Linked DNA regions of Homo sapiens. The protein of the gene in region 2 purifies or fractionates together with the protein of the main gene of each other region. This does not show direct contact. Each region holds a gene or a part of one and is shown on either strand. Other genes may lie near its edges.

Region 1 (2,331 bases), on a different chromosome or scaffold from region 2:
GTTTTTAGTAGAGACAGGGTTTCACCGTGTTAGCCAGGATGGTCTGAATCTCCTGACCTTGTGATCTGCCCATCTTGGCCTCCCAAAGTGCTGGGATTACAGGCATGAGCCACCGCGCCCGGCAGGTCTGCCCACGTTTCTCTGTGTAGCTCCACTGGGCTTCTTTCGGCAGCTGTGCAATGGAGTCTGTGGGTGATCAGAGGAGAATTCATTCAACCAGCCACCTAGGGGTGGACATTAGGTTGTTTCTGCTTTCCTTTTTCAGCTGTGCTGCAGTGGACATCTGTGACAGGTGCCATTGGGCTGGGGGGTCACGTCCCCGGGGATGCCGGGCCGGGCATTCTACATCCTCTTCAGCTGCTGTCGTTGGGGTGCTTCCAGCCAGCCTGGTCTTCCCTTCCTGTGGCTTTGGGAGGGGAAATGAGCATGGGTCACCTGCCTGCCACTGTCTGCCTCCTGCCTCCTCTGAGGCCTCCCTTTGTCCTCAGCCCAGGTGACCTTCAGAAAGACATTGGAGAAGGAAGCAAAGGGAGAGGAGCCCGACATCGCAGTCCCCAAGTTCAAACAGAGGAAGGGGGAGTCTGACGGGGCCTATATCCACCGCATGCAGCAAGAGGCCCAGCATGTGCTGTTCCTCAGCAAGAACCAGGCCATCCGGCAGCCAGAGGTGCAGGCAGCTCCCAAGGAGAAGTCTGAGCAGAAAAAAGCAAAAAAAGCGTGAGTGGAGGCGGGAGGGGGAGGGGTCTGCCCTGGGAGCCGGAGGGAAGACATTGGGTTCCCATGACGGCCCTCTGCAGGTACCCTGTTTCATAGCCATGGGGCAGCCTGGATTCAGGGAGACCAAGCCAGAGCCCTGGGAGTTGGCGAGTCGGAGCATCCAGCTGGGAGCCAGTGAGGGTGTGGCCTCCAGGAGGCTGCGGAACCTGGGAACTCTGCGGAGACCTCGCTTGGTCCTTGCTTTCACAGGAAAAGCACCAGAAAGCCCTAGCCCTGTGGGAATCAGCCCTGAGGGGGTCGGTCTGAGGGTGACGTGCCCAGGGGTTCTGTTTCCATTAGAACAGAATGTCTCTCGTCCAAGAGACTACACCTTCCTAATTCTCTAAAAGCTTTGGCCGAGTACAGTGGCTCACGCCTGTAATCCCAGCACTTTGGGAGGCTGAGGCAGGTGGATCACGAGGTCAGGAGATCGAGACCATCCTAGCCAACACGGTGAAACCTTGTCTCTAATAAAATACAAAAAAAAAAATTAGCCGGGCGTGGTGGTGCATGCCTGTAATTCCAGATACTTGGGAGCCTGAGGCAGTGGAATCGCTTGAATCCGGGAGGCAGAGGTTGCAGTGAGCTGAGATCGTGCCGCTGCACTCCAGCCTGGTGACAGAGCGAGACTCCATCTCAAAAAAAAGAAAAAAAAAAAAAAGCTTTGAAGGTTTGAGAGGTTGCTTTCAGCTCTGTAGATTCCCTGTTTCTGGATTGTTGTATTACTTATAGTTACCTTAGCCAGTGAAAGTTCATCACAGAGAACGTGGCCCAGATACAGCCTGGCGCCACGGTGATCTCCAGAGCTGTCGCTGAAGGTGAAGCTTCCAGATTCACATTGAGGGAGACGTGATATACAATGCTTGTTAGGCCCTTTAGACACAGCAGCACCGGATGGGCTGGATGAGTCTCTGTTGGGTGGTCTTTGGCAGCCTTCCCAGCCTTCGTGCACAAGGTGCCAGTAGCCCTTGCCCACGTGTCTGCACACATTGTCAGATGTTCCCTGGCAGGTAGCTGTCCCCAGCTGAGAACCACTGGGGGACCTGTGAGGGGCCTGTTGGGGTCAGAGCCTTCTTTGGTGGGCAGCTGTGGGTTTTGGGGTGGTAAGGGGAGCGGGGACTTGGAGGCAGCCACCTGTTCTTGGGTCCCTGCTCTGCCACAGGGGATCCCTTGTGGGTGGGGCGGCCTCTGCCTCCTCCCTGGGTGGAAAGAGAATTTAGGAATCTGAGTGACATGTGCTTTCTTCCCCAGGTTCCAGAAGCGGCGACTAGATAAAGTCCGACGGAAAAAGGAGGAAAAGGCGGCAGACAGGCTGGAGCAGGAGTTGCTCCGAGGTAGCTCTTCCCAAAGCGATGGTGTCAGCAGTGGTCCGGGTGGGGCCTGGGCGCAGGCCTTCTGTTCCCCACCAGCCCTGGCTGCACTGGGCACCTGTGGTTTCCCCTGGGGTCCACAGCCATTAGACCACTGGATGAGTTGGTGTTCTGTCCCAGCCCTATGGGAGGGAGGTGGGCGGGTGGTGGCTCTGGGTGTCAGGGGTGCAGTGGCTGTGGGCAGCAGTCCTCAGTTGTATTCTGC
Region 2 (3,500 bases):
GCACTTCTGGAAGGGCATTCTGGGTGGGGGGCACGGGAGGCAGAAGGCAGAAGAGATGGTGAGCAGGTGCATCGGAGAGCATCTGGAGATCATTGGGAGAGTTCTGTGGAAGCCAAACACGGGTCAGTGAGAAGCACTCTTCCTCTTGCCCTTTACGCAAAAGGTTCGATTCAGAACCACAGGATGACTGCAGTATGGCCTTCTCCAAAGCCAAGTGAGGAGCAGAAGTCCAGCAAAGCACCTTTCTAGTATTTTGGCAAGCCTGAGACTCTTCATAACAGGTTAAGTGGAACTTAGCCTCAAATGCCTACTGTCCTCTCACCCCGAGCACTGAGGCTGGACAGAAGAAGAGAATTTATTTAGCACTACTTATTTCACAGCTAGGAAGTGAACTTTTTACAGATAAGAGGCTGCTATTTCAGGAAAAACTGTCACCACTTCTAACACCAACTCTTCAAGCCTTCCATTAAAAGCTGTTCATAAAAATACTATCTAGACATTCAAAAAGTATCCTTTTTAACCAACCCTTTTGTTTTTAAGAGTCTCAGATATTCTAAACCCTCAAATTCACTGTTCCATAAAAGTAGCCCAGAGCTATAAAGCTGGTCTCAGGTCAAACTGCACCACCGGGCCACAACTGCAATGTCACCTCATCCTATCAGTTTAGTAGGCAGGCAAGAAATGAAAGCACTCCTTTAAAAATGGACACAGCTTTCCACCCTGTCCCGTTACTGCATGGAGCTACATGCTCTATACCTACACACAGCAAGATCAGTGGAACTCATCAATGTCCCAATGGAACAGTCACCTAAGCCATTGGGTAATAAAATATGCAAATCAAGTAAAAGGGGACTGCCAAATGCTGAAGCTCCCTGCTACCATTCACACAAGGGCTAGCTGCAGTTACCTTGTAGTGAGAAGCCACGTAGAGGGCCATAAGCCGTTGGAGGAAAACTTCAGAGGCCTTGTGGTAGCAAAAGAGGGTATCTCTATTAACATAGTACCTGGGTCTGGAGTTAAGAAACCAAAACAAAACAAATAGCCGAAGACAGGTCATACTACTCTCTGGAGGCAGAACAAATTTCCGTAGCTGGGAACAGGAGCTCAGTGTCCTAAGCAGAAACACATAAAAGAAGGAAGAAGAGGGCCAGGCGCGTTGGCTCACACCGGTAATCCCAGCACTTTGGGAGGCTGAGGCAGGCAGATCACAAGGTCAGGAGTTTGAGACCAGCCTGACCAACATGGTGAAACCCTGTCTCTACTAAAAATACAAAAATTAGCCAGACGTGGTGGCTGGCACCTGTAATCCCAGCTACTCAAGAGGCTGAGGCAGGAGAATCACTTGAACCCGGGAGGCAGAGGTTGCAGTGAGCTGAGATTGTGCCACTGCACTCTAGCCTGGTGACAGAGCGAGACTCCATCTCAAAAAAAAAAAAAAGAAAGAAAAAAAAAAAAGGAAGAGAAAAAGGAAATTGAAAATGTTCAACTTTCCCCTTTCTCTAGAGCAGCATCCTATGAAACAAAGGACTCAAGTCCTTTGAATTCTTTCACCGCCCCTCTCCTTTTCACAGGGCCAGTGAAACCCAGAGGAGGATACAGTTCACAAGCTTCAGGCAAGGGGCAGCCTGAGACTATCCGAGTGATGTTGAGGCAATCCAGGCACAGCAAGTCATTCAGCCACTTCTCCACTGCATCCCCAGGGGCGTATCGGATTGACTCCTGGAGGGAAACCTCATACAGTGTCCGCGCTGCTCCCCACAATCACACACACAAAAGAAGAAACAATGATTAAATATGTATTGTCTAAAAAAGCAAGGAAAAATGTTTCACTTTATATTTGTCCCATGGTGGCCAGAGACGTGTGGTAAGAATTTAAACTGGGTGGTTTAAAATTGTTTTTGGTGGATATTCAACTTGCCACGATACCAACCCCAAAGGGATCTCAATGCAACCATGCCCTGAGACAAGGACACACAAGGGCCCCACCATCAGAAGGCCCTAGTCTGGCTCCCATCTGGTCACTGGACTGCTGTTCCTCCGAAAAAAGCTACTTCTCCTCTTGGGGACTCAACCTCTCAGCCTGATGGTGGGAAGGTTTGGTGCTTCCCATGATGTCACAGGGGAAGCGAGGATCAGTAAGACTGAAGGGCCTTGCTGTGAACCGCGGGACCCGGGTCAGGTTCTGGGGTACCTGATGCCAATCTGGCTGTCGTCGTGGTCTTATTCTCAGCAGTGGTGCTGACCTGGCTCTGGGCGCTCTGTTGACGGAGCTGCTGAATTAGCTTGAGGGACAGTGACCGGCCAGTGCCCTCATAGCTAGAAACAAAGGCAAAAGGAATCAGGCACAAGGTCCCAAATCCACTGTCTAGGAGGGGACAGAGAGCTGCTTTCCTCCACCTGCTGAAACACCAGACCCCTGCTTCCCCCAGGACAGCCTTGCTCATCTCTGAACTTCCAGCATAGCAGGCACCTGTCCAAAGGAGGCAGGGTGGCACGGTGGCTGAGCTTGGGGCCACCCAGGCCTGGGCTCACGTCCTGGCTCATCTACTTAGTATCTTTGGGCAAGGAGCTGAATCTCTTTTCGCCTCATCTTCAAGAGGGGATTATTCTATACACCTCACAGGACTGTGATGTGAACTTAAAAAATAAGGACTGGAAAAAGGATGTAAGTAAAGCCTTTAGCATAAAGGCTTTAGGCAGTTTTAGTGAAGCTGGAACAAAGTTAAATGGTCAACTAACGGAGCTGCTTTTAGAAGTACGGTGCATAAGGAAATGAACTGAGAACATTTCCAGTTTGGAAAATAAAACAAATCCACCACCTCAGTAATTCTTTTCATTGCTATGCCCACTTATAAGGTGACATAAAATAGCTAAAAAATGTTGAGAAAAAAATTAAATCACCTATAATCTGATAACTCAATCAGCTTTCATTGTTGAGTTTTCTTCTCCTTGTCTTTAGTCACAGGCATATGTCACCACAGGGTACACACAGCACTTTTCATTACATCATTTCATAGTACTCATTATTATATTCAAAGACTGTAAAATACTTCCTCTTACTCAAATAATGATAAAAGCTAGATGTTTTATGCCCACTCTCCACACCACATAACAAAGCTCTCCCAAAAGTATCCTATTTATTTATTTAAGAAAAAAGAGTAAGCACAAGCAACAAAACTTCAAAACTTTTGTCGTTAAAAGACATTATTATAAAGAAAGTGGCCGGGCATGGTGGCTCATACCTATAATCCCAGCACTTTGGGAGGCCGAGGCGGGTAGATCACCTGAGGTCAGGAGTTTGAGACCAGCCTGACAAACATGGTGAAACCCCGTCTCCACTAAAAATACAAAAGTTAGCCAGGCATGGTGGTACACACCTGTAATCCCAGCTACTCAAGAGGCTGAGGCAGGAGAAATGGGTTGAACCTGGGAGGTGAAGGTTGCAGTGAGCCAAGATTACACCACTGCACTCCAGCCTTGGCGACAGAGTCAGAGTCTGT
Region 3 (2,985 bases), on a different chromosome or scaffold from region 2:
ACTTTCTGATGGTCCCCACAACTTCATGATGGTCTCCTCACTTACTAAGGCTGCCTGTCACTGCAGTCTTGATCAGCTTGTCAATTTGATACTTCAGCTTTTGGTCCAAGGGACGAAGCTTTTCCAAAACCTACAACATGGTAGTTAATCAGGATTATATTTCCTTCCCAAAATGAAGCACACACCAGAGTCCCTATATTAAGGTGCCACATAAGGCACCTAAAATATGTACAAAGTAGAGCAAATGAATAGAAAAATACCTTTTCTCATTTGGTTTCCTTAAACATGAGAAGACTCACTTAAATGAGAGCTACTGTGTGATACCCTTGGAGCTCAAAATTTAGAAACCTAAAACTCCAAGAAGCCAAATGCTTCATACCGTGCGAATCTCCACCAGTCTCAAAACTGCATCATGTCCCTGAAGAGATCCTCCTGAGGCTTTGTCCAGAATGAGGTGGGTCAAATCCATAAGGTACATGAGCAGCAGCTGGTCTTTCACTTCCAAGAAGCTGAGACCCTGAGTTGAACAAAACAGAAAGAAAAACAGATTTGGTTTTAGCCAAAGAACCAGATGAAAGCCTAGGGTAAACGGGATGTTTTTCCAAGTTCAAGATTTTCCCAATCAGTTCATATTAGGTATCTGGAATAGTCTCAAGAAGTAGCTATGCCTAAGAAGGCCAATGAGAAAGTTATGCTAATACAAGAGAAACAACGCTCAGAAAATTAATAGAAGACAATGAGAAGAGGAAAATCAATAAACTACCCCCCCAAAAAAGACTATAACAGGGTTTCTCAATCTCAGAGCTATTGACATTTGAAGCCAGAACATTTTTTGTTGAGGGCTGTCCTGGGCATTGTAGGTTTCCAGCAGCATCCTTGGCCTCTTCCCACGGATGGCCCCTCCAAGCTCTAACAATCAAAAATGTCTCCACAGACTGCCAAGTTTTAAATTAATTTAATCAAAGTAATTACCAATTTCCCCCCATACAATGGAATTATATGATACAGGTAAAAACAATGATTTATATATAATGACATCGAATTAAATCCATGTCACCACAAGTTGTAGAAAGTGTAATATGACTTCAATTGTGAAAGTGTGTGTGTGTAGGGGGGGATATGATGAATACATTTTATACACATAGAAAAATGTCTACAAGACAACACACAAGTAACTGCTACCCCTAGGGTGAGATGAGGAAAAGGAAGAAATGGTGTACTTTAGAGTGTGAAAAAGTGTTGCATATATTATTCTTATAATTTTAAAAATCTCAAAAATATTACCACAGTGGTTATCTCAGAGTGGTGATTATACTGATTTTTCATTTTTTTCTTTGGGCTTTTATGTATCTTCCAAACTTCACAGCCCTGAGAAAACCTATTTCAGAGAGGTTAAATACTTGGCCAAGATAACACAGTAATACAAGTAGAGCTAAGATTCAAACTCAATCTGACTCCAACACCTCATCCCTGGATGTCTTTAAGCCAACATGCTAAGCTCTTGAGATCAACACTACTGTGGTATAGAAGGAGAGCAAAGGATTTAGAGTCCACAAACTGAGTTTAAGTTCTGAATTAGGTGTTTGGTAGTCAAATATTGAGTAAGTCACTTAACCTTGTGACCTCAGTCTTTTTTTTTTTTTTTTTTTTGAGATGGAGTCTCACTCTGTCGCCCAGGCTGGAGTGCAGTGGCACTGTCTCGGCTCACTGCAACCTCCACCTCCTGGGTTCAAGTGATTCTTCTGCCTCAGCATCCCAAGTAGCTGGGACTACAGGTGCCTCCCACCACGCCCGGCTAATTTTTTGTATTTAAGCCAAATATTCTATGGGTAAATACAAGTATGAAAATCATTGTTAATAAGAGTCACTGAAGGAGTTTTAAGCACAGGAGTTATAGCAGATTTGTGCTTACAGAAAGATAACTAAAAACAGCATTCAAAATATATTCCCTTCTTGTCTTTATCATTCACTTATGTTCTTACTGTCCATTTTTATTTAAAAAAAATTTAAATCTTTGTTTAAGATTTAAGAGACGGGGTTTCGCCATGTTGGCCAGGCTGGTCTCGAACTCCTGACCTCGTGATCCACCTGCCTCAGCCTCCCAAAGCACTGGGATTACAGCCGTGACCCACTGCACCAGGCCAACCTCAGTCTTATCAGTAAAATATGTACATTTCCTCCCTGCCACAAAGAATAATTATGAGGCCCAAATAAGATAATGTGAAAGAACTTTGTAACCTATAAAGCACCTAGTAAAAGTCTTTGGTCAAAAAGATAAGTTAATATGTATTTGTTCAATAAATAAACAAATATATAGGGATCTAAGAAGGATGCTGGCAACTCATCCATCTCCAAAAGGCACTGAAATGGTTCAAGGCATGGTACCCAAGGCCTGGTGTGGTGGCTCACACCTGTAATCCCAGCACTTTGGGATGCCGAGGTGGGTGGATCACCTGAGGTCAGGAGTTCGAGACCAGCCTGGCTAACATGGTAAAACCTCGTCTTTACTAAAAATACAAAATTAGCCAGGAGTGGTGGCGGGCGCCTGTAATCCCAGCTACTCGGAAGGCTGAGGCAGGAGAATCACTTGAACCCAGGAGGCAGAGGCCGCAGTGAGCCAGGATCGTGCCACTGCACTCCAGCCGGGGCGACAGAGGGAGACTCCATCTCAACGAAACAAAACAAAACAAAAAAGCATGGTACCCAGGACAAAAACAGGTAAGAATTTGAGAAGCAGGCTCTTCCGACGTGCTTGGGCATTGTCAAATTCAAACTGAGCTACAAGCATATGAGAGAAAAACAAAGATTTAAATTTTTTTTAAATAAAAATGGACAATAAGAACATAAGTGAATGATAAAGACAAGAAGGGAATATATTTTGAATGCTGTTTTTAGTTATCTTTCTGTAAGCACAAATCTGCTGTAACTCCTGTGCTTAAAACTCCTTCAGTGACTCTTATTACAATGATTTTCATACTTGTATTT
Region 4 (3,251 bases), on a different chromosome or scaffold from region 2:
ATTTGTTGCCAACATTTCAAAATCAGGAATTTTCACATAGAAATCCAGATTTCTGGCATCTTTTGGAAAATTGGAAAAATTCATATTCCCATATAACAGTGCACCAGGCCTCACTGCATCCACTCACATCGGCTCCAATGACCCCTGGCGGTGGGGCGGTCACCTGAGTTTGTAATCTATGATGCCATTGTCAGGAGTGGGCACTTTGGAGTCAGGTGGGTGGGCTTTGCAGCCTGCCTTTTTGCAAGCTGCCCCCTTTCTATAAGGTTCCTGGACCCGGCCCTGGCAGCTGTCATGACAGCCACTGAGGCCATTCTGTGTCCTGGCATTCACCCCATGAGGCGTGTCCATGACCACCCCCATTTTACAGATGAGAAAGTGGACACTCAAGGAGGGGAGGGACTTGCCTCATCTCCCACAGCTACCAGATGGCAGGGCCAGGACTCGAACCCAGGTCCCACCTCAAAGCCCATTCTCTTAACCATTGCCATCAGTCAGGGTTCTCCAGGAACACAGAACCAACAGATTTATTTGAAGGACTTGGCCCGTGTCTGCGGGGGGCTGGCAGGCCTGAAATCTGTTGCTGGCAGCTCTGGGGAGTGAATTCTGCAGCCTTGAGGCAGAATTCCTTCTCTGGGAAACCGGTTTTTGCTCTTACGGCCTTCCACTGATGTAGGAGGCCCACCCATATTTTCAGGGTAATCTCCTTCACTCAAAGCCAACTGATTGTGGCATTAACCACATCTACAAAGCACCTGCATTCACAGCAGCGCCTAGATTAGTGTTTGACTCAGCCTAGCCAAGCCAACACGTACAACTACCTACCTCGGCATCTCACCGGGGCTTCTCCAGTGTTCACACTAAGATGTACTCAGGCCACTCCATGGGCGGCCGTGGACCCTGGCTGGGAGGCTCCCTTTGAAGAACCGAGGGTAGAGGTGTGACTTTGGGGTTCCTGTTATCTGCTGTGATCCAGGAGGTGTGGCCCTGCCTCCCCATCCTGAGTACCCCTAGGGACAGGCAGGTGGGGTGGGTGTGGGTGCCTGGTGGGTGGCTAGCAGCCTTGTTTGCCTCTGCAGTGTCCTCCAGCAGCCTGGTGCTGTACCAGAGCTCAGACTCCAGCAATGGCCAGAGCCACCTGCTGCCATCCAACCACAGCGTCATCGAGACCTTCATCTCCACCCAGATGGCCTCTTCCTCCCAGTAACCACGGCACCTGGGCCCTGGGGCCTGTACTGCCTGCTTGGGGGGTGATGAGGGCAGCAGCCAGCCCTGCCTGGAGGACCTGAGCCTGCCGAGCAACCGTGGCCCTTCCTGGACAGCTGTGCCTCGCTCCCCACTCTGCTCTGATGCATCAGAAAGGGAGGGCTCTGAGGCGCCCCAACCCGTGGAGGCTGCTCGGGGTGCACAGGAGGGGGTCGTGGAGAGCTAGGAGCAAAGCCTGTTCATGGCAGATGTAGGAGGGACTGTCGCTGCTTCGTGGGATACAGTCTTCTTACTTGGAACTGAAGGGGGCGGCCTATGACTTGGGCACCCCCAGCCTGGGCCTATGGAGAGCCCTGGGACCGCTACACCACTCTGGCAGCCACACTTCTCAGGACACAGGCCTGTGTAGCTGTGACCTGCTGAGCTCTGAGAGGCCCTGGATCAGCGTGGCCTTGTTCTGTCACCAATGTACCCACCGGGCCACTCCTTCCTGCCCCAACTCCTTCCAGCTAGTGACCCACATGCCATTTGTACTGACCCCATCACCTACTCACACAGGCATTTCCTGGGTGGCTACTCTGTGCCAGAGCCTGGGGCTCTAACGCCTGAGCCCAGGGAGGCCGAAGCTAACAGGGAAGGCAGGCAGGGCTCTCCTGGCTTCCCATCCCCAGCGATTCCCTCTCCCAGGCCCCATGACCTCCAGCTTTCCTGTATTTGTTCCCAAGAGCATCATGCCTCTGAGGCCAGCCTGGCCTCCTGCCTCTACTGGGAAGGCTACTTCGGGGCTGGGAAGTCGTCCTTACTCCTGTGGGAGCCTCGCAACCCGTGCCAAGTCCAGGTCCTGGTGGGGCAGCTCCTCTGTCTCGAGCGCCCTGCAGACCCTGCCCTTGTTTGGGGCAGGAGTAGCTGAGCTCACAAGGCAGCAAGGCCCGAGCAGCTGAGCAGGGCCGGGGAACTGGCCAAGCTGAGGTGCCCAGGAGAAGAAAGAGGTGACCCCAGGGCACAGGAGCTACCTGTGTGGACAGGACTAACACTCAGAAGCCTGGGGGCCTGGCTGGCTGAGGGCAGTTCGCAGCCACCCTGAGGAGTCTGAGGTCCTGAGCACTGCCAGGAGGGACAAAGGAGCCTGTGAACCCAGGACAAGCATGGTCCCACATCCCTGGGCCTGCTGCTGAGAACCTGGCCTTCAGTGTACCGCGTCTACCCTGGGATTCAGGAAAAGGCCTGGGGTGACCCGGCACCCCCTGCAGCTTGTAGCCAGCCGGGGCGAGTGGCACGTTTATTTAACTTTTAGTAAAGTCAAGGAGAAATGCGGTGGAAACTTCTTGCTTGTCCACAAATCATTCAGATGGGGTTTGGGCAGGTAGCGGGAGGCTGGGGCAGGCCAGAGGCCTGCGAAGAGGAGACAGGCTCCAGCACCCACGCTCTCACACCCCACATCTCTGCTTTTCTTGCTCTGCTGAGACTCTAATGACAAAGCCAGATTTCATCTTAACCTCAAGCTTCTACTTTTTAAAAAAATTTTGTTTTGGAGACAGGGTCTCACTGTCACCCAGGCTGGACTGCAGTGGCATTATACAGCTCACTGCAGCCTTGAACTCCTGGACTAAAGGGATCCTCCCACCTCAGCCTCACAAGCAGCCTCACAGGCGCTCACTACCATGCCCAACTAATTTTTGTATTCTTTTTTTTATAGAGACGAGGTTTCACCATGTTGCCTAGGCTGGTCTGGAACTCGGCTCAAGTGATCCACCTGCCTCGGCCTCCCAAAGTGCTGGGATTACAGGTGTGAGCCACCATCCCTGGCCATGAGCTTCTACTTCTTTTCTTTTTCTTTTTCTTTTTTTTTTTTTGAGATAGGGTCTTGCTCCATTGCTTAGGCTAGAGTGCAGTGGCGCAATCTCGGCTCACTGCAACCTGCACCTCCTGGGTTCAAGCGATTCTCCCACCTCAGCCTCCTGAGTAGCTGGGATTACGGGCGTGTGTCAACATGCTCAGCTAATTTTTGTATTTTTAGTAGAGATGGGGTCTCGCCATGTTGGCCA

What was found. Proteins that work in one complex are often made in the same cells at the same time.
Region 1: the proteins of NAT10 (region 2) and CCDC137 purify together in Homo sapiens (affinity purification with mass spectrometry; one large-scale study listed by BioGRID and IntAct). This does not show direct contact.
Region 3: the proteins of NAT10 (region 2) and NGDN purify together in Homo sapiens (co-immunoprecipitation; 2 studies listed by BioGRID and IntAct, with this or other methods). This does not show direct contact.
Region 4: the proteins of NAT10 (region 2) and C12orf43 purify together in Homo sapiens (co-immunoprecipitation; 2 studies listed by BioGRID and IntAct, with this or other methods). This does not show direct contact.

Annotation. Positions count from the first base shown.
Region 1 is NC_000017.11:81,669,737-81,672,067, forward strand, and holds part of CCDC137 (coiled-coil domain-containing protein 137), read left to right. Parts: intron 1-488; coding exon 489-717; intron 718-2,007; coding exon 2,008-2,090; intron 2,091-2,331.
Region 2 is NC_000011.10:34,129,629-34,133,128, reverse strand, and holds part of NAT10 (RNA cytidine acetyltransferase), read right to left. Parts: intron 2,317-3,500; coding exon 2,192-2,316; intron 1,749-2,191; coding exon 1,598-1,748; intron 1,005-1,597; coding exon 908-1,004; intron 104-907; coding exon 1-103. UniProt on the Homo sapiens protein: RNA cytidine acetyltransferase that catalyzes the formation of N(4)-acetylcytidine (ac4C) modification on mRNAs, 18S rRNA and tRNAs.
Region 3 is NC_000014.9:23,472,703-23,475,687, reverse strand, and holds part of NGDN (neuroguidin), read right to left. Parts: intron 518-2,985; coding exon 380-517; intron 131-379; coding exon 46-130; intron 1-45. UniProt on the Homo sapiens protein: Part of the small subunit (SSU) processome, first precursor of the small eukaryotic ribosomal subunit.
Region 4 is NC_000012.12:120,999,986-121,003,236, forward strand, and holds the end of C12orf43 (protein CUSTOS), read right to left. Parts: 3' UTR 1,208-3,251; coding exon of another isoform or gene 1,080-1,207; 3' UTR 501-1,079; downstream 1-500. Other genes in the region: HNF1A (hepatocyte nuclear factor 1-alpha), read left to right, coding at 1,080-1,207. UniProt on the Homo sapiens protein: Plays a role in the regulation of Wnt signaling pathway during early development.